2 separate regions of the Homo sapiens genome follow, and region 2 is linked to region 1. The links come from fine-mapping of genetic effects on gene expression. A gene starts in region 1. The other region holds a variant in brackets. All regions are shown on one strand. Distances are between the middles of the regions.

The links. PIP is the estimated chance that this variant, and not a neighbour inherited with it, causes the effect.
Region 2: its variant is fine-mapped to the expression of RAB21 in T cells (TOPMed, PIP above 0.99).

Annotation. Positions count from the first base shown.
Region 1 is chr12:71,744,515-71,760,961 of GRCh38, reverse strand. RAB21 (RAB21, member RAS oncogene family) reads right to left here and starts at 6,099. Exons shown (of 7, transcript NM_014999.4): 1 at 5,674-6,099. The coding sequence starts at 5,832. RefSeq lists enhancers at 5,208-5,397, 6,038-6,327 and silencers at 5,778-6,057, 12,888-13,097.
Region 2 is chr12:71,775,888-71,792,334 of GRCh38, reverse strand. It overlaps RAB21 (RAB21, member RAS oncogene family), which reads right to left. Exons shown (of 7, transcript NM_014999.4): 5 at 10,250-10,304; 6 at 9,677-9,765; 7 at 1-6,804. The coding sequence ends at 6,662. Among named protein-coding and RNA genes, the nearest start is that of RAB21, 29 kb to the right of the region's middle. The variant T/C (reference allele first, on the strand shown) is at 9,460.

The DNA of each region.
Region 1 (16,447 bases):
AAGCATGGGATTATAGGTGCGAGCCACTGCACCCAGCCAAATCCAAGTCTTAGTTTCCTCATTTGCCAAACTGTTAGGATACTACCTGCCTAGCCAACCTTACAGCACTACTTTGTTATTCACCCAGACACCTATCCTAGACTTCAGGAGGCAAGCAGAATTCTATAGTTGGGACTCTAAAAAGAAAGGGGACTGTTGATCTTGATTAATCTTCAATAAGCACCTTCAATAAGGGAAAAAAAAAGGGGTACATAACCCAGGAGCACAGATATAAAGAAGGCACACCAAATTGAGGAAGTGGTTAAAACCAAAATGGCACAATCCTTTAAGAATAAAGTCAAGAAAAGTAACTGATAGTTAAAGTACCTTGCTCATCGTTATATTCCCCAGCTAATACAATGTTTGACATATACCAAGTATAAAATAAACGTTTCTTGAATTTAACTGCATAGATTCAACAGTATTGCCTTCGTAAATTCCAGAGAAACAGTAGTAACTCCCTCACTCCAATTGTCTTTCTTATTTTTCCCAAGTTTATCAAAGCCTCAAATCAGCGAGGAAATCACACGAGAGCTTGGGGACTCTATATAAGTTAAGAGAGCTTACGTACAGGATTACTCCGTAACTATCAGTAACCTTGGAGCAGCTCTGGAAAAAGAGAGCCACACTAAAACACCAAAGTATGGCAAATGTCACAATTAAAAAACAAAAAAAAGAAAGTGAATTCCGGAAATGTAGATCTCAGTGAAAACACTAGAATGGATTTGCTTTGTTTTAAAAATATTTAACCTATAAGCAATTTTAAATATAATGACCCCTCAGAGACAGCATGAGTTCTCAAAATAATTCATGTGAAAATAATCCCATTACCCTTTTTGACTGAATTGCCATGAAAGAAAAACATAAATCCCGCATCATTTATTCATTTAACATCAAACAGCAAACATTTATTAAACAAACATGTGCCAGGCTCTGTGCTAGTAGCTTTACATATGACGGCTGTCTATGTAATAATCCACATAAAGTCCTATGAGTAAGGTACTCCCATTTTAAAGAAAAGGAGCTTGCTTACAGGCATTAGAATATCCTGTCAGGATCACGATGGCTATGAAGTGGGAGTAAGAATTCAAACCCCAGTGTAACTTCAAAGTCCTTTCTCTTTTCACCACATTATATGGCCTCCTAATAGATTTGAGTACTGCAGAAACACAGCCTATCTTGTCTTCTGCAAGAATTTGACAAAGCATCTCATGATAACCTTGTGGGCAAGACAGATGTAGCTTGGGCAAAAAGGAGAACTGTAATGCTGGAGTAAATGTTTACATTTTATTAAGGGATTTGTGTCCACTAGGTAGTAGCCCATAGCAGTCAGTCTTCCATTATCATTAATATGTATAGCACTCCATTAACAACTGTTTCTTACTCAAGGGAAGGAGGAGGGGATGGCCTGTGGCCCATGCATGGCCCAAAAAAGCCCCTAAGATTCTATATGTCTACAGAAAATTGCACTTCTGGTCATGTATCACTGGACTACAGTAAAACTTGCTGCAGAGCTTTGCACTTGGCCCTCTCTCTCTGCTTTCTTTCATAGTCTTTAATAATGACCTGTTGAGAACATTAAAGGCATTCTTACCTAACTTTCAGATGACAAAGTTAAAAAGTAGCTAATCCAGACAGTAGATTCCACACCTTATTCTTTGCCATGTCCAGGACCCAACCCAGTACCTGGCCCAAAGGAGCCCAGTCAGTGTTTTGTGAATTACAGAATCCAAATTAAAAAGGACATTAACAGGCTTAACTATTGGAGCAAATCTACCAAAGCCAACCTTAATGGGTCAAGTATATTAGAAACAAAAGAAAAAGCTTAACTACAATACCAAAGAAAAGAGAATCTGAGAGATACAAATAATGCCTTTTTTTGAAGCAATTAAGACTAAGATGTTTCAGTTGACAGCAAATTCAATATTTATCAAAGAGAAATTCTGAGAGCTTCCCTAAAAGCTCAGAGAATCTCTTCTACTTCAGTGTTGGAAAAGGATTCTCAACAGGAGAGGTGACAGCCTGCACTTCTCTGTTCAGTTCAAACCACCACACCTGGAATTATTTCTACAGCTCAAGGAATCACACTTTAAGGAAAGGACAATGATTACATAGTGCCTAGAAGAGATTCAAAATAGTGAAAGGGCCAGGCACAGTGGCTCATACCTGTAATTTCAGCATTTCAAGAGGCCAAAGCAGAAGGATTGCTTGAGCTCAGAGTTCTACAACAGCCTGGGCAACATAGCAAAACCTCAACTCTACCAAAAAAAAAAAATTAGCCGAGCATGGTGGCGCACGCCTGTGGTCCCAGCTACTTGGAGGCTGAGGTGGAAGGATTACTTGAACCCAGGAGTTGGAGGCTGCAGGCAGCTATGATATCACCACTAGAGCAAGACTCTGCCTCCAAAAAAAAAAAAAGTGAAAGGATTTAAAACGATGTCACTGTCACTGGAGATCCAGTTAAGGGAGCCAGAGTTGTTTACCCAAGAGAAGACAAGATAGCTATCTTCAACTATCAGAAGGAATGTCATATGAGACACCAAGACTCAGTGGGGAGAATTAGGACTGAAAACTACTAAAAATAAAATAGGACCGGAAGTGGTGGCTCACACCTGTAATCCCAGCACTTTGGGAGGCCGAGGCAGGTGGATCACCTGAGGTCAGGAGTTCGAGACCAGCCTGGCCAACACGGCAAAATCCCATCGCTACTAAACATACAAAAATTAGCCAGGCATGGTGGCACATGCCTGTAGTCCCAGCTACTCGGGAGGCTGAGGCAGGAGAACCACTTGAATCCAGGAGGCAGAGGTTGCAATGAGCCGAGATCGCACCCCTCCACTCCAGCCTGGGTGATAGAGTGAGACTCCATCTCAAAAAGAAAAAAAAAAAAATTTAAAAATGAAATGGGACACCTTAGGACAAAGTGAGCTTTCCACTTTCCATAATACCAGTTCATTTCACCTCCAAGATGTTAAAAAAAAAAAGGGGGACAATCACTTGACTAAACATTAGAAGACCAAAATAGTGATCCATACATAACTGTCTTAAATTCCTGTCAATCCTGCAATTCTTTGAAATGTATGAGAATGTACTTTATAAAATACAAAGTAGTTTACATAGACAGGTACTCTGTTGACGAGAAAAAAGGTGAACTCTTCCTCTCATATCTTCTGACATGATTTCCTCTCCATTTGGAAATTAAAAGAATACAAAGTTGTGTCTTACAAGTCACATAAATCAAATTCCTCTGAAAAATTGTTAAGAAAGATGAGGTTAACTGGTATCTCTGAAAGAGATTAGACACATTGCTGTTTACATACATTGGTGTACAACAAAATCCTAAATTCTATAATATAATTCAGATATTAATACTGGATATCTACTATAACTTCATCCTCCCCTCTGTGGAGTACAGTGGCTTTTCATATATTTAAAAACCTTTACTCTGCTTTCAGTTTCAAGAATGTTTTAGAAATTTAAAATGGAAGTGTAATTTTTAAGTTGAAAGGGTATGGCCAGGTGCAGTGGCTCACCCCTGTAATCCCAGCACTTTGGGAGGCCAAGGTGGGCAAATCACCTGAGGTCAGGAGTTCGAGACCTGTCTGGACAACATGGTGAAACCCCGTTTCTACTAAAAATACAAAAAAATTAGCCAGATGTGGTGGCGTGTGCCTGTAATCCCAGCTACTTGAGAGGTTGACGCAGGAGAATCACTTGACCCAGGAGGTGGAGGTTGCAGTGAGTGGAAATTGCTGCACTTCAGCCTGGGCGACAGGGCAAGACTCAAGTTATCTTTTGAAAAAAAACGTGGAGACCTCAATTACAATAGTTTTCTTTTATCTTAGATCTTTGCATAAAGGAAAACACTAGATGGGTTATTTATCAATATACCGAGGTAATGTGATTTAATTGCTCAAAATCTGAAGTCAGACAGGGGTTCAAATTTGAGCTTGGACACTCCTGCCCCATTGACTTGTGGTAATATTACTGCCAGCAAAATTACTCAACTAAACGTTTTTCCTCAGCTGTAGGGCTATCCACTAAACTATCCACTTCATAGGGTGTTATAAGAATTAAAGCAAGCAGACAGAAAGCAAGCAAAATAATCAGCACAGTAAGAACTCACTAAATGTTAGCTATTGTTACTACTTTACCTAAGTAAATCTCTAAACTTCCAAATGATCCTAGGTATTTGTCCAGTGAATTTTCTTGATCTAAAACACCAGGCTCTCACTAATGACACTGAACAATAACAATTCATTATTAAAATTTTGTCAGTGTTCTGGTACAAGGATTTTTTAAAAATGCAGTTTCCTGGCACTCACTTTTTCAGATATGCTTTACATACGAGTAAAATCAGAGGAGTAAAAATAGAACATGGAATCAGAGCCAGAGCGTCTTGTAAATTCTAGACTCAGTAGTTTAATAATAGCATCAAACATCCAATGTCACAACAATTAGGAGATTACGCATTCTATTAAGTAGTGTCGATGTTCTCACATACTACACATTTACTAATTAAGACCTATTGTGCAAGTTGGGGCGGTAATTAAAGGCAGACAACTTACACTGGACCAGGTCATCAGTGCTTTTTCTGTATATTTATCCTGACAACCCTATGAGCTAGATACTACTATTATGGCCATTTTAACAGAAGAAACAGGCACAGACAGGTTAAGTAACTTACCCAGTATGACACAGCTAGTTAAATGGATGGAGGTGAGACATGAACCTGGACAATCAGGCTCAAAAGTCCACTAGACTTTACTGCCTTTGACCAAATTGGTAAGTCAAATTAGTAGGATAAATTTCTCCTAATAACATCAAAACTGATTTCTCTGGGAGAGGTGGGGTGAGTACAACTCCCTCAAAGGCCTGGCTTCACTCTCAATCAATGATAACATTTTAACACCTTTCCAATGTACCTGTGGAAGAAAGCCGACCTTTTATTTTACAGGTAAAGAAACTGAGTAACAGCAGCGGCTTTTAGTCTGGGGACCAATTGTTGGCCAGTATTCACTTGATGTTTCAGCGTGGGTCAATCGACCTCGCAGAATATGAGTGACCCGCAAGTCAGACCCACGCAGGCTGCAATGAAACTGCGTAACACGCCTAGGCAAGCGGTCATTTCAAAAAACCTCCAGAGATGGCTCTTTTGCCATTCCTGTTACTCAGGACAAAATGGAACTTGCATAAACACTTAGTCATCAGTAAGCGCTGAAGTTACAAATCACCTAATTCGCAAAATCAAATACGCAGCTAAGTTCCTAATTCTGAAAGAAAGAAAAGGAGCTAACATTTGGAGACTGCAACACTGACACCTGGGACCCAGGAACTGCAGTAAATGGGAAAAAACAGCCCACGGACGGAGACCACAACGTGCGCAGCCACCACGGGGAACACTGGGGACTTTTCAGGGCCCTTCCACTTCCCTCCCAACAGCCTGTCCTCGCGTCTACAGGCTGCCCCGACCTGGTGATTCCCCAGGGCGAATTCGGAAAGGTAAACCGAAGGCGGAGATGACAGGCCTGAGATTTGCCAGCCTACATCCAGGGGACCAGGGCGGCAAAGTTTCCCCAGCCCCGGAGGGGTAGGGGCCCTGAGGCGCCCCCTCCCGCTCCCCGAGGTCCGCACCTGCAGAGTGGTGATGTGCTTGTCGTTAAACTTGTTCTCGCAGTAGCGCAGCACCAGCGACGTCTTCCCCACGCAGCCTTCCCCCAGCAGCACCACCTTGAACGAGTAGGCTCGGCCCGCCGCCGCCGCCCCGCCGCCGCCGCCGCCGGCCGCAGCCATCCCGTCGCTTCCCGGCCGCCCGAGCCCGAGTGTCGCGCCGCCCTCCCGACAGCCGCGGCAGCGCCTTCACAGCCACGGCCGGCTCAGCCCCCACCGCCCCGGCCCCGCCGACCCGGGCGCTGTCCCCACGCCCTCCTCGGGCGAGGCCTGGAAGGGCTGAGGGAAAGTCCGAGAATGAAGGGCCCCAGCCCACCACGTCAGGCACCGGAGGAAAAGCGAAGAACGATCCCTCTCTGCCTCCCTCTAATGGCGTCTCCTTCCTCCTACGTCACACCTCGGGTCACGTGAGCGCCGGTGCCGGGGCGGCCCCTGCGACTAGCCCCAGAAGAACGTGCCTGGACGTGGGCGGGGCTTCTGGGGCATCTCCCGGGGTGGAGCTGGATGTGAGTCGAGCGCCTACTGGCAATCTAGGGCAGAGCCCCGCCGCTTGCGAGCCACCTCTGCTTTTCAGTTGGTGGGAGCCAGCGGGAATAAGGAACCAGGAATTTGAGGCGAGCCCAGCTCTGGTGAAATGAAGGGCAGAACTTCATCGTTTTTGCATGTTCACAATGCTAATGATCTGTCACACCAGAGGTCACTGTAAACCATATCTGCCAAGGTGCCCTTGAATCTCTCTCTGTGGGATCCCGAATCATAGCGCTTCCAAGTTCCTCTGACCGCCTGGTCAACTACTCCATCATCTTTCAAGTCTCAGCTTAAACCGCGTCCCTGACCACCCAATCCTTCCCCCATCCTTCCATTCCCCCACCTCACAAAATTAGGTATTTCTTACCACCAGTATACCTCCTTTACTAGGGCTTTACACACTCCATGGATATTATTAATACTTTGCTAAGTGTTTATCGACTCTCATTAGACTATAGGTTTGTTGAGGGCAAGGTCTGTATAAGAGCTGCCCACCTTTGAATTCCTAACCCCAAGTGCTCTTCAGTTTTTCTGACTTTCATGAAGCCTCTGACGTTCCATGGTACTCCACCTTGAGGTGGCTTGTTCGATGATTGCTTGTTTTTTCTCATCTGCATCCCCATTCTTTTTTGTTTGTTTGTATTGTTAGTTTTGAGATGGAGTATCGCTCTGTCGCCCAGACTGGAGTGCAGTGGCGTGATCTCAGCTCACTGCAGTCTCTGCCTCCTGGTTCAAGTGATTCTCCTGCCTCAGCCTCCCGAGAAGCTGGGACCATAGGCGCCCACCACCGCGCCCCGCTACTTTTTGTATTTTTAGTGGAGACAGGGTTTCACCATGTTGGCCAGGCTGGTCTTGAACTCTGACCTCAAGTGATCCACCTGCCTCGGCCTCCCAAAGTGCTGGGATTATAGGTGTGAGCCACCACGCCCGGCCTGCCTCCAAGAAACCATACTCCTCCAAGAAATCATACTAATATTTCTGAAAATTTACTGGAAACCTGGTGTCAGGTAAACATTTTTTTAAAAATCAAACTTCTTTCACACTTCAAACCAGGTTAAAAAAAAAAAAAGAGGCCGGGCGTGGTGGCTCATGCCTGTAATCCCAGCACTTTGGGAGGCCGAGGCGGGCGGATCACAAGGTCAGGAGATCGAGACCATCCTGGCCAACATGGTGAAACCCCATCTCTACTAAAATACAAAAAATTAGCTGGGCATGGTGGCACAAGCCTATAATCCCAGCTACTCGGGAGACTGAGGCAGGGGAAGCGCTTGAACCCGGGAGGCAGAGGTGGCAGTGAGCCGAGATCGCGCCACTGCACTCTAGCCTGGCGACAGAGGAAGACTCCGTCTCAAAAAAAAAAAAAAAAAAAAAGAGAGTCGGTTAATTCATTCAACAAATATTTAAATGTGCCCACCATATGCCAGGCACTGTGATCAACAAGATAAAATGTCTCTGTCCTCACAGAGCTTACATTTTATCAGGGAAGACAGACATACTCAATTGTACAATAAATGCTTTCATCTTGATGAAACAGTTCAGAGTATCTTGCAAGCATATATGAGAACCCAACTGATTTAGCATGCTAGAGAAGCTTTCCCTGGAGAAAGTTATCTTTGGGTAAGAGTAACCTAGTCAGGAAGGACAGGAGAGCTCTGCAAACAGAGATAACAGCATGTTCAATGGCTTTAGATAGGAAGGAGCATCTAAAGTTGAGCAACTGTAAATGTGACTAGAATTTAGGGAGGAAAAAAAAACTCCAGAAGAGACCATGAGGAAGTTGGGGATCAATACTGAAAGGGTCTTTAAGCAAATGAAGGATTTTCGTAAGATGACTGACATAATCAGATTTGACCACTCTGGCTATCATTTGAAAAGTGAATTGGAGAAGGATAATATTTTAGATTTGTTTAGAACCAACCATTAAAGAGACTCTATGTTTTATAAAATATCCTCATGATTGTATCTAAAGATATATTTTCCAACTCTCTCCTCCACATTCCTCCCCTTAGGGTCTTTGCACATTTATAGACACTTCCAGAACTAGAAAAGAACTTCATTTTGAGAGAGCACCTTCCATTGTTCTTTCTGAGCACTTCCTCATATTGGATTGAAATCTGCCTCTCTTCACCTGCAATTAATTATTTCTGTTTATATTTATACATTATATATCGAATCCCTATTCCCTATAAACATATGAAGAAGGCTGTGTGTTCTTCCTTTAAGCCTTCTCCTTTCTTCTTTTTGATACAGCCAATCCTTTCAACAACTTTTCAAATTGTGTGCATTTGATTATTTAACAGCTTGGTCATCTTAGAAACTAAATGCATTACTTTGCATTTATCACTAAATCAAAGCAATTAAAAATTTTTTTATTGTAAAACAAAATAATTTTTTTGTGAGACAGGATCTCACTCTGCTGCCCAGGCTGGAGTACAGTGCCACAATCACAGCTCACTGCAACCTCAACCTCCTGGGCTCCAGCAATCCTCCCACCTCAGCCTCCCGAGTAGCTGGGACTGCAGGTGTGTGCCACCACACCTGGTTAATTTTTTAATTTTTTTTGTAGAGACGATATCTTGCGTGTCTTGCTGTGTTGCCCAGGCTGGTCTTGAACTCCTGGGCTCAAGCAATCCTCCAGCCTCAGCTTCCCAAAGTGCTGGGATTACAGGTATAAGCCACCACACTCAGCCAAAATAATTTTCGAAGTTAAAATAAGTTTTTACATTTAGCTTACGTTGACATTTAAGAAGGTAGTGCAAGTTTTCATGGGTTACAATAAGTAGGTTGGCATACTTTTGAGCACAGAGTGGGTAAATATAGATGTAAATTGTAATAGGCTGATAACGGCCCCTAAAGATATCAGCTCCTAGATTCCGGAGCCTGTAGATGTTACCTTATTTGGGAAACAGGTCTTTTTGATTTAAGTTAAGGATCTTGAGATGGGGAGATTATCTGGGTGGGCCCTAACTGCAATCACAAGTATCCTTATAAGAGAGAGGCAGAAAGAGATGCTTCACACCCAGAAGAGGAGAAGGCAGTGTGACCATAGAGGCAGATTATGGAGCAATGTAGCCATAAGCCAAGGAATGCTTACAGCCACCAGAGCTGGAAAAGACAAGAAGCCCCTAGAGCCTCTGGAGGGGGTTCAGCCCTGCAGATATGCTGATTTTAGCCTAGTGAAACTAATTTTGATTCCTGACCTCCAGAACTAAAAGAGAATAAATGTGTGTTGTATTAAGCTACCAAGTTTGTGATCATTTGTTACAGCAGCCATAAGAAACGTACTTAAGTATGTTGTGAGAAAACAAGTAGCCCATAACAGTCAAAGCATTGAAAGAGATTCAGGCCAATTCTGGGATAGATTCTACGCCCTTAAGAATTTAGGTCAGTCTTAGAGTCAACTATGATTGGTCTGTATAAACTTAACACGGACTGCCACAAAAAAAAAAAAACACTAGAGCTCCAGTTCCTCCGTAGAGAAGAGCTGCAAAAATATGGGGACACTTCAGTGAGTGCATAACTCAAAACATATTCCTGAATGGTGAGGACTGAGGCATGATAGGGTGCAAATTCATGTAGCTCCTCTTCCCCCAGTAAAAAACAGGAATAATTATACAGGTGAAATCAAGTTAACAATGAACATGCAGCACAATATCAAATGGGGAAAAATTGTTGCACAGAGGTAAAATGCAGCTTTAATTCTGTAGGCGGGAAAGAACAACCTCACCCATTTTGTGGTGGTTATAAAGTTGAGTTTATGGACTACTTATAATGTATATGAGACCTAGTTTTTGGAATGACTCTTCCTTTCTCCCCCTGTTCTTGCACTACGTTTGTGAATTAAGACCAATGTCCTGGGCCGGGCATGGTAGCTCATACTTGTAATCTTAGCACTTTGGGAGGCTGAGGCAGGAGGATCGCTTGAAGCCAGGAGTTCAAGACCATCCTGGGCAACATAGCAAGATCCTGTCTCTACAATATTTTTTGTTTTGAGACAGAGTCTCACTCTGTTGCCCAGGCTGGAGTGCAGTGGCACAATCTTGGCTCACTGCAGCCTCGACCTCCTGTGCTCAAGTGATCCTCCCCCCTCATCCTCCTGAGTAGCTAGTACTACAGGTACACACCAACATGCCTGGCTAATTTGTTTGTATTTGTAGAGATGGGGTTTCACTGTGTTGCCCAGACTGGTCTTGAACTCCTGGGCTCAAGTGATCCGCCTGCCTCAGCCTCCCAAAGTGCTGGAATTACAGGAGTGAGCCGCTGTGCCTGGCCCTGCAATACATTTTAGAAAATAAGTAGGCATAGTGGCATGCACCTATAGTTCCAGCTATGTGGGAGGATCACTTGAGCCTAGAAGTTCAAAACTACAGTGAGCTATGTTCATGCCACTGTACTCCAGCCTGGATGATAAAACAAGACCCCATCTGCAAGGAAAAACAAAAAAAAGACCAATATCATGAATCCCAGTATGATCATATAACCATGTAGAGACCTCAATTGTTGAATTTTGATGAAATAGCTAGAGTCAAGGAGTCAGATAATTCTTATTTTTCATTTGGAATGGAGGATTGTCAATGGCCTTTGTATATCTCTGGTTCATTCATCCTTCACTCATTCATTTACCATTGAAAAAATATATGGTGAGAGATGAATGTAAAGAGGTAAATAAGATTCTATACAACCTTGAAAGTCATGCTTGGGCTTTACTATAGGAACAATGAGAAGTCTTTTAGGACAGTGTGACATAAAATGCAGTCTTCAGGGCAACAGCAGCAGTTAGAAGCTTGTTAGAAATACAATTCTGCCATCCCCCACCCCCATTAAATCAGAATTTCTGCAACTGAATCCAAGAAGAAACTTTTCTTTCACAATCCCTCCTTGTGATTCTTATTCATGGTAAAGTTTGTAAAGCACTGACTTGGAAGGTAGAGTTAACAAGACTTGGGGAACAATGGTTACGAAAAGTGAGAAAGTTAGAGACAGGGAGGAATAAAAAATGAATCCTGCAGTTTTGGTTTAGTCAACTGGTAAATGGTGATGACTTTCACTGGAATAAAAAACACAGGAGGAAGAAAACATTTTTTGATTGTACTTTCTTGGTTTTGTACATTTTGATTTTGAAGTGCCTGAGGTATTCTCAAGTATAAATATCTAGTAGGCAATTGGTTTTATGAACCAGCAGCTTAGGAGAGAGATCTGGGCTTGAGAAAAGGACAAAGACATCATCAATGCACAGAGAGAAATAGCTTCCACAGGGGTAGAGGAGATCACCCAGGGAGAGTGTATAAAGTGAGAGGGTCAGAGGGCCTAGGACAGAGCACCTGAGAACAATGACTTTTAAGAGATGGGTAGAGGAACAGGAGCTGCAAAGAGATACACAAAGAAATTAGAGGAAAACTGGGGAAGTTAATGTCAAGGAGAGAAGAGAACATTCTAAGAAAAAGGGAATCATGAAATGTTTTGGAGAGGTGAAGTTAAGTATGGACTGGTCTTTATGTGTCTTAAGTATCTACTGGTTTAGCTACAAGAGAGCAATTTGAAATTTTGATTTGAACGGTTTCAACTGAGTGGTAGGAGTTGAAATAAACTTGCTCAGGAACTTAACTAAAGATGGTTGATTTAGTCTACTAGTTCTTAACCAGGGGTAATTATGCTCCTCAGGGAACATTTGGTAATATCTGGTGATATTTTGTCTACTGGCATTTAGTGGGAAGAGGCTAGAGATGCATTTAAACATTTGACAATGCACAAGACAGTGCCCCACAACAAGTGCCCCAGCCCAAAATGTCAATGTTGCCAAGGTCAAGAAACCCTACTTTAGCCTAATGAAGTGTGTATATTTTTACAGCCCGTCATAATTATAAATCCACTGGTTATATTAAGTTATGGAGGCAAACAGAGAGTAGGGCTGAACAAGTAGTAAAAGAATAAGAAACTCAAAAGCTCGAAGAAACTATTTCCAACTTTGCCAGTATTATCTATGCATGTCTTTCACATAGTCATTTAAGTATTTTCTCAGCTTCATTTCTCCACGTAGAATTATCTTGTATCCCCAAGGCACTTTTAATCCTCCATTGAACATTGGTTCCTTTTAGCAACTGTTACAGAAAATACATTCTTATTCTAATTAGATTTTTCCTCAGAGACAAAAGGAGAATTCAAAAACACTTTTATAACTACTTGGAGAAATTCTAGTACTTACAGATGCACTGTTTCTATATCACTTTTCTACAAGTACAAGAAATTTCAAGGAATTTGGGTTAATATACTATAATATGCATCCTTTCAAAAAAGAATAAGTTGAGTATTAGGAGCTAAAGTGTAGAAAAACAGGAGTACAACAGGAGAGATAAACGAACCTGAAGAAAAACAAAACAAAACACGATTCCTGCAGCTGCCACAGTGGAGGGAGCTGAAATTGGGGGTTTGCCAGCAAAGCAGGGATTTTGTCTGCTATGCGCTAGAACTGTGTCTGTCACATTTTTGTATCTCCAGTTTCTGGAATGTAGTGCTCAATTAATATGTGTTAACTGAAACAAAGGAATGAATGGAGCTAAGCCTATAAAATACTGTGTATTAAAAATGAGGTTTGAGAAATACTCCTGGGCATATGGAGCATTGTTAAATAAAATTTACTCAAAGCAGCCGGGTGTGGTGGCTCATGTCTGTAATCCCAGCACTGTGGGAGGCCCAGGCAAGTGGATGACACGAGGTCAGAAGTTTGAGACCAGCCTGGCCAACATGGTGAAGCCCCATCTCTACTAAAAATACAAAAAATAAGCCAGGCGTGGTGGTGGGTGCCTGTAATCCCAGCTACTCGGAAGGCTGAGGCAGGAGAATCGTTTGAACCGGGAGGTAGAGGTTGCAGTGAGCCGAGTTCGCACTACTGCACTCCAGCTTGGGCAACAGAGCAAGACTCCATCTCAAAAAAAAAAAAAAAAAAAAATTTACTCAAAGCATTTTCCATCTTAAGCCTCTAATAAGGGTAATAGAATAGCAGCTATCAACTAATGTGTAATTTCTATGAATGAATCCCATTTATTCCTTTATTGCTCAATCATTCAGCAACCTTTGTTGTTGAGTGCCTGGCAAGATGTCTCTGCCATCATGGAGCTCATATTCTAGTGTGGGAGGCAACACAGAAACAATTACAATATGTGTAGTGATCATGTTTGATATCTACCCAGCATGCACACCCCTTTCTCCTTTCAATCAAAATCCAGTCCCTGCTTAGCTATCTACCCTCCCCGGTGTAGCCCAGGTCCCCACAGCTTTGGGTCAGTTCTAATCTCATTCCCCTAGGTTCTTTGCAGCTTTTTTTTTTTTTTCTTAATAGAGATGGAGGTCTCACTATGTTGTCCAGGCCGGTCTAGAACTCCTGGGCTCAAGTGATCCTCCTGCTTCGGCCTCCTGAGTAGCTGGGATTACAGGTGAATGCCACCATGCCTGGCCTCTGCAGCTTCCAAAGCCACTATTTGTACATCTGAAGCAATCTTTCAAATGCTTCTCACTGGCAATAAACTGAGCTGTAATTGTAGTCACTGGCCACAGAGAGGCACTAGCAGCCCAATAAAATTTACCAGGTTGGCCAGCATACATTTAAAGCTGCCAGCGTAATTCAAAATTTAGGTGTCCTTCAACATTAAAAAGAAGGAAACCATGGGGAGATTTTTTTCTGAGTTGTAGAAAACAAGAATATTCCAAAATCCTATGACTCTTGGGTGGAAAAGGGGAGAAGATACAGTTCACAAGCCATTTTTCCCTAAGTTGTTAACTAAAAGTGTCCCAAGAAACTTTACATATGTTTGTCAAAGAAGGAATTTAAGTCCAATGTTCAGCTTCTCAGATCTTTCCACCAGTTTCTACTAAAAATATACACTCTCAAGAGTTAAAAAGGGAAGGCAAGTAAAGAAACCGAAAACGTTGTTTAGTCATAAATATGTAAAGTCGTTCCTCAGTATTCATGGGGGATTTGTTCCAGGGTTCCTCATGGATACCAAAATCCATGAATGCTCAAGTCTGTTATATAAAATGGTGTAGTATTTGCATATACCCTATGCACATCCGAGTTTCACTCTGGTTGCCCAGGCTGGAGTGCAGTGGCGTGATCTTGCCTCACTGTAACCTCCACCTCCTGGATTCAAGTGATTCTTCTGCCTCAGCCTCCCGAGTAGCTGGGATTACAGGTGCTCACCACCACGCCTGGCTAATTTTTGTGTTTTTAGTAGAGATGGGGTTTCACCACATTGGCCAGGCTGGTCTCAAACTCCTGACTTCAGGTGATCCACCCACCTCAGCCTCCCAACTTTCTGTATACTTTAAATCATCTGTAGATTACTTATAATACCTAATACATTGTAAATGCTATGTAAATAGTTGTTATACTACATCGTTTAGGGAATAATGACAAGGAAAAAAGTCTGTACATGTGGAGTACAGACATTTTCTTTCTTGAATATTTTCTATCCTCAGTTGGTTGAATCCACAGGTGCAGAACCCACAAATGGTGGGCCAATTGTATTTTATTTTGCCTTTAGAAATTGTATTTTGAAATAACCATGGCATGAAGCTTACCTAATTATATCAGATGGAAGTGTATGTTTGAGATGATTGGTAATAGGATGTATAACAGCAATTTTTTTTTTTTGAGATGGATTTTCACTCTTGTTTCCTGGGCTGGAGTGCAATGGTACAATCTTAGCTCACCGCAAACTCCGCCTCCCAAGTTCAAGCGATTCTCCTGCCTCAGCCTCCCAAGTAGCTGGGATTACAGGCATGTACCACCAAGCCCGGCTAACTTTGTATTTTTAGTAGAGACGGGGTTTCTCCATGTTAGTCAGGCTGGTCTCGAACCCCCAACCTCAGGTGATCCGCCCACCTCGGCCTCCCAAAGTGAACAGCAATTTTTTAATTACTAAAAAGTTTCAGTTCAGAATGGTAACAGTCTCAATGAGTCAGTCTGCAGTATGTTGATTTTTAAAAACTAGATGCCACTAGTCATATGAAACTGGAAATTCTAGAGATATTTGTCTATTTGAGATGGGCCTGAATGACTATTCTTTCGCATCTTCTTGAGAAATCAGTCAGTGTAGAGAATTTTAAAAGCCTCTTTAATAAAGAAATTGCTTTGCCCTGGTGAAATAATTTGGCTGAGGATTCTTACAGATTTGTGATGTTGAGATTGGAGAGCTTTGGGATAGCTGTAGTCGAATGGGAAGTTTGTAAGTATTAATACTAGTGTATACTGAGAATTATACCATTCAGTACCACTTATTTGAGTGTTTTTTCCTATTGGTTACTCATTCCTACTTGGAAAAGATTTTAATTAAAATCCAGCTGTTGTTAGGCCAGGCGCAGTAGCTTGCACTGTAATCCCAGCACTTTGGGAGGCCAAGGCAAGAGGATCACTTGAGGCCAGGAGTTTAAGACCAGCCTGGGCAACATAGTGAGACCCCCCCATCATCTCTACCAAAAATTTTTAAAAAAATAAAATCAGCTAGGCATGGTGGTGCGCATCTGTAGTCCCAACTACCTTCAAGGCTTAGATGGAAGGATCACTTGAGCTTAGGAGTTTGAGGCCACAGTGAGCTATGATCATGACATTGCATTCCAGCCTGGGTGACAGAGCAAGACCTTATCTCTAAAACAAAACAAAATCTTACCATTCTCCTATACCCCTTTTTAAGTACTTCCTAGCATGTATTATTGAGTATTATAATTACTTATTTATCAGTACTAAAGATGTAAGTTCCTGAACTAGTCGAGATCTGCCTGTTTTGCTTACCATTATATCCCATGTATAGAATAATGACTGAAACACAGTAGGTGCAAAATAAATGGCTAAAGGTATTATTCTTATGACTTCATTTTCACTATTTTTTTTTTTTTGGCTTTTGTGCAAACTTCCATTTCCTTGAACTTCCAAGCGCAGCCTCCCTCCCCAGTCCATCCACCAGTCCTCTCTTGGTCTCTCTCCCTCTCCCTGACTTCTAGCTGCCTCATACTCCCACGCTGCTCACAACCAGGTTCAGACTCCGCATTGAGTATCTAAACTCTTACCAGCACATTTCATTTTCATATATCCTTATATTTACACTGCATCATCACAAAACACCAACCTTAAAGTGAACTTCTGGAACAATTTTCTAAGCCACCTGAATTTTGTGCATCAATACAAATTCATAGTTACTAACTTCATTCTCAGGGCTAT
Region 2 (16,447 bases), 31 kb before region 1:
CAGAGGATAGCATTCAAGAGTTTGACTTGACTTTCCCAGAACGCTACAAGTTTTTAAGCTTGATGTATGGTAAACTTACATCTCAAAAGTCCAGTAAGTAGTTAACTTCTAGTTCCAGAACTATTACTGCTGATTTAACTTGCTTTAAAAGAGTATGATTCTAGGGTGGGCATGGTGGCTCATGACTGTTATCCTAGTACTTTGAGAGGCCAAGGCAGGAGGATCACTTTGAAACTAGTTCAAAAACCAGCCTGGGCAACAAAGTGAGAGCCATCTCCACAAAAAAAACAAAACAATTAGCCAGGCGTGGGTGGTGGTGTTATGCACCTGTAATACCAGCTACTTCGAAGTCTGAGGTGGGAGGATTGCTTAAGCCCAGGAGTTTGAGGCTGCAATGAGCTATGATCATGCTACTGCATTCTAGTCTGTGCGGCAAAGCAAGACCCTGTCTCAAAAAAAACTTCCAGAAAAAGAAGTATGATTCTAGTTGGCCTTGGTAAATTGGTCAGTTGAGGGTGGAATTTGATATAGGGTAGAAGTTCCATTCAGGGAATGGAAAATTTACAAAGGCCAAATATAAATATAAAACTGCATAATAAAGACACAAACCAAACTGTTAACAATGGTTACCTCTAAAAAGGGATGTGGGATGATGAGGGAAGGGAGATCTAAAAAGGAACTTTTGTTTTTACTCTATATTAAAGGCACAGATCAAATACAAGTTTGAATTTTTGGTAGCATCATGTCCTGTTATGGGAGTTGCTGTCAGAGTTGTATAAAGACTTGTTTTAGTTTATCTTGTACTTTTCCCCATCAGTTATACCTTTCCTCTTTTTCCTTCTTCCCTCCAATAAAAAACGTATTCTGATAAAAGAATCTGCTAAAGTTAACTCCTAGATTTTATACACTAAGCAGTCAACCGTCAGCCAAAAGTAATGAACTTCAAATACATTACAAGAGGCCTTCTAGTTTCCTGATTCACATGCTTAAAGCAGACCCTGATTCTGTCTAAGCATTGGCTTGCATTTAAATTCTATGATACTGACTGGGCCTAGTGGCTCACATCTGTAATCTCAGTACTTTGGGAGGCTGAAGTGGGAGGAATGGTTGAGGCCAGGAGTTCAAGACCAGCCTGGGCAACACAGCAAGACTTCCCATCTCTACTAAAAATGAAAAATACAAAAATTAGCCAGGCATGGTGGCTTACACATGTAGTCCCAGCTACTCAGAAGGCTGAGGCAAGAGGATTGCTTGAGTCCATGAGTTCAAGGATGCAGTGAACTATCACTGAGCCACCACACTCCAGCCTGGGTGACACAGCGAGACTGTCTCAAAAAAATGAAATAAAAAAATAAATAAATTTGGATACTAATGAAATCCACCTAACAGACCAGATTCCTTTTCAGGTTTCATGGAGTCAGAGGCTATTTTAAAAAAGAAAAAAAGAAAGAAAAAAAAAAGAAAAAGGCAAGACACATCCATAGAAATGTGGGAGGAAATAAAATGAAAAAGTCTGTATTTACCAAAGAGCTCCTAGACACGTTGGCAAGAGAAAAGGCAAATGGCAAAACACATGGGTAAGACACAATTTATGTGAAAATTTAAAACCCACAACACTATGTATTTCTATATGTAAACATATAGATATATTAATACATAGCAAAAAGATATTTGAGGAGTATATACTAGAGACCAATAGTTACTACCATTTGGGAGCACTACCAAAGGGCACTTTGACAATATATGTTTTTTATTCTTTTCCTAGAACATTTTCTTACATAATTAAATACAAAATGAGGAACTTTCATATTTCTAGGAAGTACCACATACAATGATTTCCTTAAAATAGCTTGCTACTAAAGCTAGAGTTTAGCAGATACCACTTCTTTCTACTTTTCAACATTATACTTTATCCTTGCTATCCCTCACCATTCTCTCATTGATCTACACATGTTCAAATGTAAAGAAATCACCTTAGCTTTTTCTTAAAATACGTGATAGTGAAGAGATGATACAGTTGCCAGAAAGTATCAAAATCAAGACTGAGAACTGGTATAGTGGGAATAAAGGCCACTGAAGTAGGCAACTCCACCTCCTCTTGACTTGTGCCTTTAATATGATGCATTTGAAAATATGTGCAGACTTCTAAAGAAAGATGCTTTAAGAATAAGAGACCTAACTGGGTATGCTGTGTAACATTAACTCATCATGTTTACTCATATATCTACTGAAGAGAAAATGTTGCAGTAGAAAGGTTAATGCGCCAAAGCAGTTTTCCAGAAAAGCAAAAATGTATAAATCCTAGATAGCACAAGAACTGCTAAAGGTCTATCAATTAAGTGGTATTTATTTAGAAGAGAAGCATTTCTGCTTGAAATTGAAAACTCTTAGGAGTATTTCTAAATTTTTTCCAATACATAACACTATTAAAATATTACAACTAGGAAAATTTTGCTCAAAATTGCAACTGTTTTCTTGAAAAGGTAAAGGCCATCAGACATATGTGTAGCACGAATTTTGGTCCAGAACACCAAATATATTACTCTGTTATAGTTGATTACAGATAACAGAACAGCAACATACTAAAATCAATGCATATTATGAAATCAAGTAGATGCGGTTCAATAAATTCCAGCTTTTAACTATTAAAGCCTAGGTAATGCATTTTATAATTTAGAGAAGAGTACTTAGGGATCTACTCAGTTTATATCTTTAGACATTATTGTGAGGCTCCTGCGGGTCACTACTACTATCTATATCCTTTTCCAGAAAATATCAGCATCTTAAATGGTCACAAATTATGTATTCCCTCTTTGTCACACTGAATCTACAGAGAAAACTGAAAACTCTACAGTGGCAAACAAGTCAAAAGATGAATTCTAAAAGTTAAAGGCACAGATCAAACTACTTTTAGAGATAACGTAACGGGTAATTATAAGAGTAAACTATACTATCTGAATATGTAAGATCAACTATCTAGAATCCTGGTAGCACTTATAATACAGAAAATTGCAAATTATATAATTAAAGAAATAAACAGTATCACAATCCATTTTTAAAATGTTCTTAATATTTGGCATAATGCATAGTTTGCCTTAATTAGAAACTCTTTGATAAAAGTAATGTACTTTTCAAAGTGATTTAAAAAACTGTCAGGTTGTAGTTTTTTATTTACTTGACTTCCATTCTATTCCTCCCTATGCTCTTTCCCTATTTTTCCAATTTTATCTTTCACTACTAAAAACCTAAAAGTGAAGTACTACTCTTCTTCTTCACTTTAATGTCAAATATAAAGTACTCCACTAATAACATATGGCTACTATTAAAAAAAAAAAAGATTTCAATGCAGTAACAGCCATAGCTTTAGGGTATTCTTAGGCAACACCCCAGACAAAACAAATCTGAACACTTATATTTCATACAATAACATAATGCTTTTTTCTTTTCACATTACTGCTTACCCCAAAAGCATGGCAATATACATTTTCAAAAACAATCTTCCCCTGTAATTACAATGAAAAACAAGAAGCAGAATACCCATCATCATTACAGAAACAATGATTGTATACTTTTAACATAATATTCAGGTATTTTTAATCACTATCTTAAACCAATTTTTAATTATATAAGTTAACTGTATATGCTTACTGGCTGAAAAAATACTGGCACAACCTACCTACTGCTTTTAATACACAACGTGGTAACTTGTGTCTTCTGCCTAATAGCACAATTATCAGAAAAAGAATGCAAAAGGTATATTAGAGAAATGAAGAAAGCATCAGAAAAATTTCCTCAGCCTTGGTTTATCATCTCTTTGTCTTTCCTTTGTATATATACTGAAGTTGACTGGTCCTCTTTCATTACTCTATTCCTACCCAAAGACCTTTTGGGTTTCAAAGTGACAGCAGCCATATCATGTTGTCTATTGTTGCTATTGAATTAGCCTCAATTACAGGCCCCCACTAAAAAGGATAAAGAAATACGTGAGGTTAAGAAAGATAACACAGAAACCAAAGGAGAAAAAAGAAAAAAAAAATATGAAGAATAGTTATGACCCACCAATAATTATCTGGCAATTCTGGAGCAGAGGTTCCTATCTAGCTGTTTCATTAAAGTAGGATGAAAAGCTGAAGTATAGCTCTCCAATTATCAGGCTTTAGAACGTTTTTTTAAAATAAAGCTCAATTTCATCTCTAACTAGTTTTTGTGCCTTTTACGAGATGGAGGTCTCAGTGTTACCTAGGCTGGATTTGAAATCCTGGCCTCAAGTGATCCTCCTGCCTCACTCTCCCAAGTAGCTGGCCCTACAAATGCATGCCTCTGTGCCCAGCTACTCTAGTTTTTAAAACATATTTCACTGTAATGAGAAAAGCTTATTTCCTATCTACTTCTACAACAGTAAGAATGGAAAAGCTTTCTTCACTCTGTCTGAAAGAGCCAGGAGGTCAAAAACAAAGTACCGTGATACCCATGATTCTTGCTACCTTCCCCCACCCCCACATAAATACTAACTTCACAGGAAACCAAGAGACTACAGAGTACAATTACCCCATAAAAGAAGACAATTTTAGCTTATCTCCCTGACTCTTCCCACCCCAACTTCCTCAAAAACACATAACAGAAAAGTCTGTGTTGAGTTTAGCAAGGACAATAATTAAAGAAGGTAAAGTGAAGGCTCACAGAATGCCTCCCAGTTTAAGTTAAAATTCCAACATCATAACATCAGGGTGTCAATTCATTCAACTTTTAACCCATTTGAGAAGGTTTAAGTTATTAACTTAAAAATATGGCAGTATTTCTTTTGTAACTATAATCTCTTTATAGCCTCTTAATTGCTCATGCTAATAGCTTTATTACATACTACTGCTTCTTATAAGAAGTAAATCCAGGGGCCATTCCATTTTATCTTAGACATAATATTTACTAGTTTTCCAAGCACGACAGAAATGAAAAAATATATATATTAGAACAAGAACAATTTATGTTAATCTCTACAATCTGTGTTCCTTCTGCGAGCAGTGCCTGATTCTACTAAAATTAACACATTTAAGTTCAGTCTTATGCTTAAGAAAAAAAAATCTAATGAGGGACTAATTTATAAAGTATACACAAATATAATTCTTTAATAAATCTTTCCAGTGTTCACTATATCTGCATTACATGTAATGTTTCCATCCACAGAAACTCAGGATAGTTCTTGTAAAATGAAACAGAACATTCTGTGTTCATCTCTGGCAAGCAATGAACAAATAGAACTTGCTCACAAAGGATCTAAAAGTGCTGCCTCAGGAACATAAACTACGTGCTATATGAATGAGTCTTGGTTAACTGGCTACTATCTGGGATCTCTTCCTCTGCTCATACCACTGAACCCATCTCTTATAAAGCCTATGAGAAAATGAAAGCTATTGCAGAAGTGAAATTCAACATGAGCCACCCAAATTCTTCTAAGGTAACCATTCTAAAGCAAAATCAGCAGAAGTCATCTCTTCTATAATAACAAACAAAAAACCCAAAAGGCAAATGCTACTGCTCAATCATCAGATGAACTCACAGAGGCAAAAATATGTGACAACAGCAATAATTCAAGTAAAGTATGTATGAAAATTTAAACACGCCATGTTCAAGTTAAGACAGAAGTGAAGGGGAGCTATGATCTTTATATTAGTCAAAAAAGCTAGGCATAATCACCAAATGTTAATTCACTTTACAGTCATCAATGAGACTATTGTATATATTTTTGCACCTTGCGCTTGTAAAAGCAGATAAAATATTTAATATGTAATTTACAATGTATTTTACCAGCTCAGCATACAGGATGTATACAGATTATATCAAAGTAGTAGACAGTTACGGGCCTGTGCAAACCCTGCAAAAATAGTACTTCAGATATCTGCTAATTAAAAACAAAAACAGTTTGCTGTTTAGAAGTGATACAATTTCAACTACCACAAAATACAAAGGGCTGCAAAAATGTAACCATTCCAACAACATATATAAGTTATTAAATAAAGATTTGATTTGAAAGAATATAAATGAAGACTTTAAGTAGGTCTTTTCTACATGCATATTATTCCTCATTAAAGAAAAAATATGTAAAAAGGCCATTGGTAATTGCTTTGTTAACATTTGTAGGCCGGGCACGGTGGCTCACGCCTGTAATCCCAGCACTTTGGGAGGCCGAGGCGGGCGGATCACAAGGTCAGGAGATCGAGACCATCCTGGCTAACCTGGTGAAACCCCGTCTCTACTAAAAATACAAAAAATTAGCCGGGCGTCGTGGTGGGCGCCTATAGTCCCAGCTACTCGGGAGGCTGAGGCAGGAGAATGGCGTGAACCTGGGAGGTGGAGCTTGCAGTGAGCCGAGATCAAGCCAGTGCACTCCAGCCTGGGTGACAGAGCGAGACTCCGTCTCAAAAAAAAACAAAAAAAAACAAAAAAAAAACAAAAAAAAACATTTGTAGAAAATGCCAATTCTCTGGTCACAAACTCCACTAAGTTTAGCACTTAAGGTCTCTGCAGTGTTATAAACGTAATTTAAAATACTGTTAATTCTATAATTCCATTGGTAAAATAATGTGACTTGGAATATGGCAGTCTTCATGTTGAGGGCAATGATCCACAGTTTTGTTCTGTCTTTTAATTTCTTAGGCGTGAACAGTTATCCAGAAGAACAGCACCCTCCACCACTGGTCTGGGCTTGAGGTTCATCATCAATAATCTGTACACCTCGCCTTGCAGTTCCCGGCTGACTAGAGCCATTGCCTTTTGCTCTCTCATCCACTTGTGCTGTTTCTATCATCCCTAAGACAGAGAGAAAGCAAACATTATTAGGACCACAATATTTGTGTTTTCTCTTTCTAAAATTTCAGTATAACACTATGATAGCTATTTCTGACTTTCGACCAACAAAGAAACTAAATATAATGAACATTGGGTCAGCTCACTAAAACAGCTTCACCTGCATGTTTTAAAAAACTAGTGTCAAAAACTAGTATCAAGTAGTAAGCTTATTTATCCAGTGGTATAATGGCCACAGTGATATCAATAAAGAAAAAAATTTTTTTGCTCTGAACAATTGCCTGCGTACAAGTATAATCCTTAAGATTTTCCAAACACACTTAGAAATATGTCAAAGAAGTTCAAATTATTCCAAGTAATATTTAGGGGGCAGGATTTATTCTTCAACTAGAAATGTAATACTTTTAAGTAAATGATTCTTTTTATTTTAGTTTTGAGAGACAGGGTCTCGCTTTGATACCCAGGCTGGATGTGCAGTGGTGTGATCATCACTTACTCACTGCAGCCCCTAACTCCTGGGCTCAGTTGATCCTCCTGCCTCAGTCCCTGAGTAGCTGGAATTACAGGTATGCAACACCATGCCTGGCTGAGTTTTTTTTTTTTGCTAGAGATGGGGGTCTCACTATGTTGCCCAGGCTGGTCTCAAACTCCTGGGCTCAAGTGATCCTATGGCCTTGGCCTCATAAAGCACTGGGCTTATAGGTGTGAGCCACTGTCCCTGACCACAGCGATATTTGAAGAATAATGGAGTTTAAGATGAGGGAACTTCGAAGAACACAGCAGAAAGACTCACACCACCTGATTGCAAGAACTAGTATAAAGCTACACTAATCAAAACAGTGAGACAATGATAGGAGAAATAGATCAGTGGAACCAAAAAAACACAGTCCAGAAATAGACCCCGTAGATATGGTCTCTTGATTTTTGACATGGTTGCCAAGGTTATTCAATGAAGAAAGAATATTTTCAAAAAACAGTAGTATTAATAGAACTGGACATCTATTGTAAAAAAAAAAAATCAACCTTAACCCACACCTTAACATCTTATGCAAAAAACAACGAAAAATGAATTATACACTTAAATGTAAGACATGAAACAAAATTTCCAGAAGAAAACACAGGAGAAAAATCTTCATAGGAGAAAATTTTTGTGACTTTGGCTTACACAAAGAGTTCTCATGTAAGACATAAAACATGAATCATAAAAGAAAAATAGATAAACTGGACCTCACTGAAACTTAAAACTGCACTTTAAGAGACACAGGTAAGAAAAATGGGAATACACAACACAGACTGAGAGAAAGTATTTACAAAACACGTATTTGAGAAGATGAAGGAAGAAAAGAGGGTGTCCTTAAAATACAAAAGGGCTCTTAAATTAGAGACTGCTCTTGATTAATGGTTTACAATTTGAGGTATGTGGGACAATCCAACAAGAGGAAATAAGAAAACATTATAAATTCTATATCTACTTATTTTTAACTTTCCAAAATTTCTATTTTTTAGGTATGTTTTAAAATGTACATATTAGTACTTGTACATGTTATATAATTTCTAAATAAACATGTGGAGCATGCAAAAATTGTTTTGAAGATGTGATATTTATAACATTTGTAAGCCACTGACTTAGTGCATTGTTATTTAAAAGCATTATCAGAAGGAAGGAAGGGAGGGAGGGAGGGAGGTAAGGAAGGAGGATATCCTGATGACTAGCATCACCACCACTTGGGTGCTTGTAGAAATGAGGACCTCAATCTATCCCACACCTATTAAATCAAAATATGCATTTAATAAGATCCCCAAGTTGTTATGTACAGCATTGGCTCTTATATTTTAGTGTGCATTGGAATCATATGAAGCGTTTGTTAAAACACAGATTCTGGGCACCATCCCTAGAAATTCTGATTCGGCAGGCTTGGAGAGCCCAAGAATTTGCATTTCTGACATATTTTCAAGTGATATTGATGCTGCTGATCAGGGGACATCACTTACATAATCAATATTTTAGAAGAATTATGAATGACTTGAGGGTTTTATAAAACTAATTTATTCCAAAATGTGTGTGTGTGTGTACACACACACACACATATCAATATTCTTTTCTAGAGAGAAAAACCATGATTTCATCAAATTCTCAAAAGAGTCTAAAGTCCATAAACTCAGATATGCATTTTATTGGTAATATAAGAAATGATTTTCAGAATATATATAAATTTATTTTCCTTTTTCTTTAAAACTATAAACTTTTTAATATGGAAAATTTCAAACATAAAGTAGAAAATACAGCATAATGAAAATCCATCACCCAATTTCATGAATAACCCTAAGCATCCCTACCATTATTTTGAGTCAAATCTCAGACCCATAACTTTATTCCTAAATTATTTTAATGTGTCTTTAAAAGATAAGAACTCCTTTTATAAAGCATAACCACAATACCATAATCACACCTAAAAAATTAATAGTATCTTAATATCATCAAATATCTTGTTTCACAAACACTCTTTTTCACTAGTTTGACAAATCAGTGTCCAAATAAGGTCCATTCATTGCAAGAGGTTGTTACAGGTCTTAAATCTGTTTTAATATGTAAATTCCCCTTCCACTTTTAATACTTATGCATATATTATAATATATATTTAGCCCACACCATACTTA[T/C]GATTTCATAACCATTAATTACTGCTTGAAACAGGGTTAAAGTAGGTATTTAAGCATTAAAAAAAATAGTTACAGCACTTCAGAAATACTACCAATAGTCAATAGTTTAAAAAGAACCAATTCTTTGAAAAGTAACACTGGTGTAAAATACATACTATTTTTTAAAAAATAAAAACCAAAAACCATTTCTAAACAAACTAAATCTGAATATACCTACTTTTACAAAGGTCAAGAAAGAGTTCCTCAATTCCTTTGTTCTGTTTGGCTGAAGTATGATAATGTTTTGCTCCCACAGATTCTGCATACCTTAAAAAAAAGTAACATCGGTGATTGATGTAAAATATTATTCATGATTTTGTCTTAACTGCTTTTTTATAGTAACAGTTTTAGTGACATATTAATTTACTCAAGTTTAGTGAAATTAAGTTTATATAGCTATTTAAATTCTCTATACATTAAATCAAATTTTAAATAACACAAATATAACAAGCCTCGAAATTTTTATAGATTAATTTGGGACTCAAATACTTCAAAAGTTTTTCTGGCTTACTGCCTATTTGATCATGATAGTTTTGTTTTATATCACTCGTATTTTTCACTGAAGTCAAAAAGGGAAGTAAGGGCTTTATTGCCACAAGCCCAGAAATTACCATGTAAACATGCTTCACTGAATCCAACACCTCAATCCATGCTAAGAGATTTGAGTAATACCTAAATGGTAAAGCAAAACGTATAAAGAGGAAGATTTCTACTAGGGAGTGATGGGGAATGGGAGGGTCACAGTACTTACGACTCTGCTTCTTGAATGGAAACATGTCTCTCCTTTTCCAAGTCTATTTTATTACCTATTTTGAAAAAAGTAAATATTTATCTTTATACTGATTTATTTTCATAACAAAATTAAGCCAATTCTAAATATAAAATTGCCATTTTAATTACCAGCAAAAATAATGCAAATCCCCACCAGACTTCTAATGTCTTGAAATTATAAAGTTAAGCCTTGTGATCTGAGGGTTGATCATGCCTCATCCTCCTTCAAATGACTCAATTCATACCTTTCCTGAATCTGCAGCCTCTGACAAAGAAAACAACTTTTCCAAAGAGACAGGCACTCTTTTTTGATTTTGGGGGATACCAGAGACCTAGAGATAAACCTATGATTCTTAGGCAAGTGTAAATGATCAAAAGTAAGAGCAAAATTTTCTACAGTTCCCATTAACTTAGAGCCGGTCAATAAGTATGGCTATCTTAGTGTTTACTAAAATATATTAATCTAGCCTCTTGGATCCTACAAGTATTTTGGTTTCCTGGATGATATAAACCAGTTAAAGTAAAAATTAAAGTGTACAGATTTTTAAGTACTCCACAATCATAAGGGGAAAAACTGTATTCTCTTTTTTTTTTTTTTTGACGGAGTCTCGCTCTGTCACCCAGGCTGGAGTGCAGTGGCGCCATCTCGGCTCACTGCAAGCTCCGCCTCCCGGGTTCACGCCATTCTCCTGCCTCAGCCTCCTGAGTAGCTGGGACTACAGGTGCCTGCCACCACGCCTGGCTAATTTTTTGTATTTTTAGTAGAGATGGGGTTTCACTGTGTTAGCCAGGATGGTCTCGAACTCCTGACCTCGTGATCCGCCTGCCTCGGCCTCCCAAAGTGCTAGGATTACAGGCTTGAGCCACCGCGCCCGGCCGGAAAAACTGTATTCTTTGTTTAAAAAACAATTTTAGTGAGTTATTAAAACTTAATATATGTATATCATGCAGATTTAAATTATAAGTTTAGCTCTCCTTAAACAACAGAACCAAGCTGGGATTATACTTTTAAAAAAAGCCATCAGAACAAAAATGAAGAAACTGCAAAATACTGATTCCTTGAACTTAAGATGAGTTGGCTGGACACCCAGAGTGCTAAAGGTAATAAAAACAGTAGATAACGATAAGGAAAAATACCCTATGGAAGGACACTTCAAACAAACATTTTTATTCTTCTACTATGGCTTTTAGGGAGAAAAGAGAAATCTTATAAATAAGGTTACTTTTTTTCTTGGAACCATATAGATTCTAGGAGACAATTTCAGATAAATTTCAGATAAGGCATTGAAATAAGCACCCAATAAAAGATAAAATGTTTAGCACTGAGGTGGACAAGTCCAAAGGTTCTATATACTGAGGACCTCGAATAATCTGAGAACCTAGTTGCTGGCAACTGCAAGAAACTATCTGCCACCATAGCCTAAGAATCAGAGAGAGGGAAGCAGACAACACTAAAGCTCAGTGGATACCAACAAATTCAGTAACAAACTCTTCCTTCTTTGAACAGCTATCTACCACAGCAAGAAGTTTCATATTAGTTCTAACTTCCTACATTATATTTGTCATTGGAAATTTTAATTAGCTAAATATGACAATGTCTGACAGTAACCAGAGGAAAAACCGTCGTGTTATTCTGTAAAGAATGCAAAAAGCACCACCTGGTGGCCAGTGGCTCCAACAAACAGGAAAAAGATTCTGCCTCACAAAGGCAAAATAAGATAGTCTCCTACTAAAAGTAGCAATATTAATTTTGCTTCAATTACCTAAAACCCTATGGAATTTTTTTCTAGGTATTTAATGGCTCATGTTCCAAATTCCATCAATATCATCAATACCTATAAAAAGAGTGAAGAGAGGAAAAGCAGGCAATCACCTTACTGCCTCAAATGAACATTTAGGAGAAATAATTCAGACACTGCTTTATTATTTGATAATATTTTAAATGACTAATTTTAATAAATCAGGCCATTAATAAATAGCTATCTTAATAACCTATTATTTTAAACTTAAAATATTTTAAATCTAAATAACTATTATTTCTTTGAATAATCAGTGTTCACAATGGATTGACAGCACAGAATACATTGCAGAAACCTGACTGGCTAGTGACTGACCTCTTTCCAAAGCTCAAAAACCCTTTTAGTTTCTATATTTTTTCAAAAGCAAGACAGCTAAGGAGTAAGGCTTTGAGACTCATATCTGCTTCAATACTACTGTGCAGCTACATACGGAACTTTCTGATAGGCTTAAAACACCTGAAAACAAGGACAATAACCAAAGCAAGCACCTACTTAAAAGTATAGTACTATAAAGAATTAAAAACATAAACAAATAGGCTGACACTATTGGAAAGGGAGGGAAAAAGCTACCCTCTAAGTTAAGCAGATCTTCCTTAAAAATACATATTTGAATTAAGAACATAGAAGGGGCATGTCCACTGCTAAGGGCAAATGGCCTAATGATATAGAACTAGAATCATATTATGCTTAGACTGAATGGTTGTGGGGCACAGTGGAAAGAAGCTTTCAGAAAGCTTTTAAATGTGATAAAACTTGTTTTTAAGTCCTTGCTTACTCCATAACTGTAATTTTTTTTTTGTTTTACCTTTTTTTGAGACAGGGTCTTGCTCTGTCACTCAGGTTGGAATGCAGTGGCGTGAACACGGCTCTCTGCAGCCTCCACCTCCCGGGCTCAAGCGATTCTCCTGCCTCAGCCCCGAGTGGGACTACAGGCACACACCACCGCATCTGGCTAATTTTTGTATTTTTTTGTAGAGATGGGGTTTTGCCATGTTGCTAGGCTGGTCTCAAACTCCTGGACTCAAGCAGTCTGCCCACCTTGGTCTCCCTAAATGCTCGGATTAAAGGCCAGAGTCACCACGCCTGGCCATAACTGTAATATTTTGGACAAATTAGTTAACCTCTGTTAGTCTCACTGTACGCATGTGTCGCTAACAAACCTTGCAGGGTTGATGTGAAAATAAGATATATGTAAAAGGCCTAGCATATACTATATGCTCAATAAGGAACAGTTATTAATATTAATGACATTCATCACAGTGAATGATCAAATGGAAAGTCAATATTGTTGTAAGACAATTAAAGTCCATGACAGGTAATACAAACTTACTCCTGACCTCAAATGATCCGCCTGCTTCAGCCTCCCAAAGTGCTGGGATTACAGGGGTGAGCCACCACGCCTTGCAGGTAACGCACTCTACCATCATCCTACTGGCTTCATCTAGCTAACTTAGTTTATCCAACACTTGGTCTAGGAAATGTTCCCTTATCTCCCCCTTGCACCCCAAATCTAGTTTGTTTGCTTTTGTGCTCTCATAGCACTCCATTCTGCATTTCCCTTCCATAGCATTTATTATAACATATAATAGTAGCTTGTTTTCCTCTCTTTTTCCACACAAGAGACTCTGGGAGGACAAGAACCGTATCTATTTTGTTTACTTATTCACTACACTATTCCCAAAGCCTGGCACATAGTAAGCAATGAAGTGTTTATTAAGGATATGGGCTTGAAGTGGCAGGCAGATCTGAGTTAAAATCCCAGGTCTACTTCTAACAAACTATGTGACTTTGGGAAGTTTCAAGGTCTCTAAGCACATTTTTTCATCTGTAAAATGAAATGGTCTTCCCCTCAGCATTGTCAGGAGGCTTAAATGAAGTAAAAAATGTGTACTTAAAACAGTGCCTGGCACTCAGTAAATGGTGACTACGATTAATAATAAATATTTGTTCAAGAAACATACAAATATTAAGGATAGACTAGATGCAGAATACTATCAACCACAGCCAAGGGTGCCTATCAATGGATTAATGACAACCTAGAGGAAAAAGTCTCTGCTATTGAAACATGTGGTTCTCTATTACTGGTTAGCACATGGATATCAGGGACTTAGATAAGGATCTAGGAGGTTAAGTATTCAATTTACACATGAAAATGCTAGTAGACTGTATATCAAACATAAAGATTCAAAAACATGACAAACTGAAATTTCTACTTAGCTTTAAATAGTTACATGAGAACAAGCTGGGAAACATCTGGCTGAATAGCAATACTTATAAAAAAGGACTTGAGATTTTAGATAACTATAACCTATGTAAAAGAGACTAGTTGACATGTCTGCTAAAAAATTTAAGCAATCTCAGGCAATCCTGATAGAAGGCCAGTGTGAGGAGAGAGACAGGGTCTATAAGAACATACTAGCTCAACAACATTTGGATTCTATGGTTTATTTCCAAGTGTGGGAGACATACTGACACAATAAAATAAACCTAGGAGAGAAAATGATCAGGATGATCAGAATGTCTGGAAGGTAGGCCACATAAAAAAACAGCTGATCTAGAGAATTTAAGACTTAAAGTGAGCCGTTTAAGTAGTCTTCAAATGCTTGAAAGGTTATCTTATGTAAAGAGAAAAGAATGAATTCTTGTCAAATGTTTACCTCTATGCCAAGTATTTTTCAAATCATTATATAATCTTCATCATAACCCTGAGAAGTAGTAGTATTATTTCAAAGTTACTAATAAAACAGAAGAGAGAATAAACACTGAACTACTACAACAGAGAATAAAAATCAAGAAGTGGGAAAAACAATGCAAATGTCCATCAATAGCAAAACAGATAAACTGTGGAGTATTCATAGATTAAAGTATTAGACAGCAATCAGAATAAAATGAACAACTATATACAACATAAAGGAATCGTAGGCACATAATGTAAAGTCAAAAAAGCCAGACCCAAAAAGAGTTAATATTATATGATTCCATTTATATAAAATTCAAAACAAAACTAATTCATGCAGTAAAAAGGATAGTGACGGGGGTGGGGAATGGTGAGGGGAAAACAACTGTGAGTGTTGGGATGAAAAAGCAACACAACTCAGGGTCCTTAGGTACTGCTTACACCGTGCAATTTTCATTTTGTGAAAATTATGTTATTGAAGATTTGTACACTTTTCTGTACATATAATGAAAAACTCACTTTAAAAATCAGTTAAGTGAAGGATACAGGGAGTATGATTTCAGCTAAATGTGAAGAAAAATTCGTTTATTGCACTGTGTCAGAAAAAATAAGTTGTTCTCCAACACCAGCGTGTATGTACACTAAATCAGAATTAACAGCACACAGTGCCTGGTACAAAGAAGCCACTCAAAAATACTTGTAGAAGGAAGAAAGATGGGGTGAAAAGAAGGAATTAATTCTTAGTCCCATCCATAGAGATTTTGATTTAGTGTATCTGTAACGAGGCCCAAAATACTTTTTTTTTAATCCTTTAAGTTATCCTAATAAGTTTGGGAAAAGTAGTAAATAAGCTCTCAGAATTCTTTTTTTTTTTTTTAAACGGGAGACTGGAGTTTTATTATTACTCAAATCAGTCCCTAAGTTCTCAGAATTCTCCCAACTCTGAATTCCAAGTAAAATTCCATGTCACACTTGTCAACAGAAGAAAGTGAGAGCTTTCTATACTTCACACTAATAATTAATAAACATTATATAATATTAAATGGGGTATTTGACCCTACCTGAGGCAATAGGCTACCAGATCCAATATTCCTAAAACGTCTTATAATATGAACATTAAAAATATACACTATATAAACATTTTTAAAGAAACCAATTCACTATCTGGCAACCACTCTCTCTGATGCTCCAGTGAAAGTATCTTCCCTGAGGTTCAATTTAATGTTATGCCTTCAACTTTTAGAGAGGGGCAACATAAAAGGTACTTCATTGAACATTAAAAAAAAACAAACACACTTTAAACTATTCATGAGCTTGTTTAACTTAGATGATTTTTTAAATGTTACTTTGTGACCTTGGTCAAGTAACAAGCTCTTGGGGTTTCCTTGACTTTATGTATGTGTTAGTAATTTCTATCTTCAGAAAGATGATCAGAATCCCAAAATATTAAATCTTCAGTCATTCATCTACTGTGGCCACTTCCACTCCTAGTAAGTCCATATACCACACAAAGTTACACAAAACTCAGTACTGATTAGCTGTAGCTTTGGTTCCAAATCTCCAAGTAGCCTACTACTTCAGTGTTCCAGTCTGAAATATTCCTGCCTAGCCTAACATCTAGCATCTAGACCAAAACGCAGGGGAAATCATCTCGCTTTTTTCCCCCAAGACTTGCCCCTGATCTGGTACTATAAAGCTACCA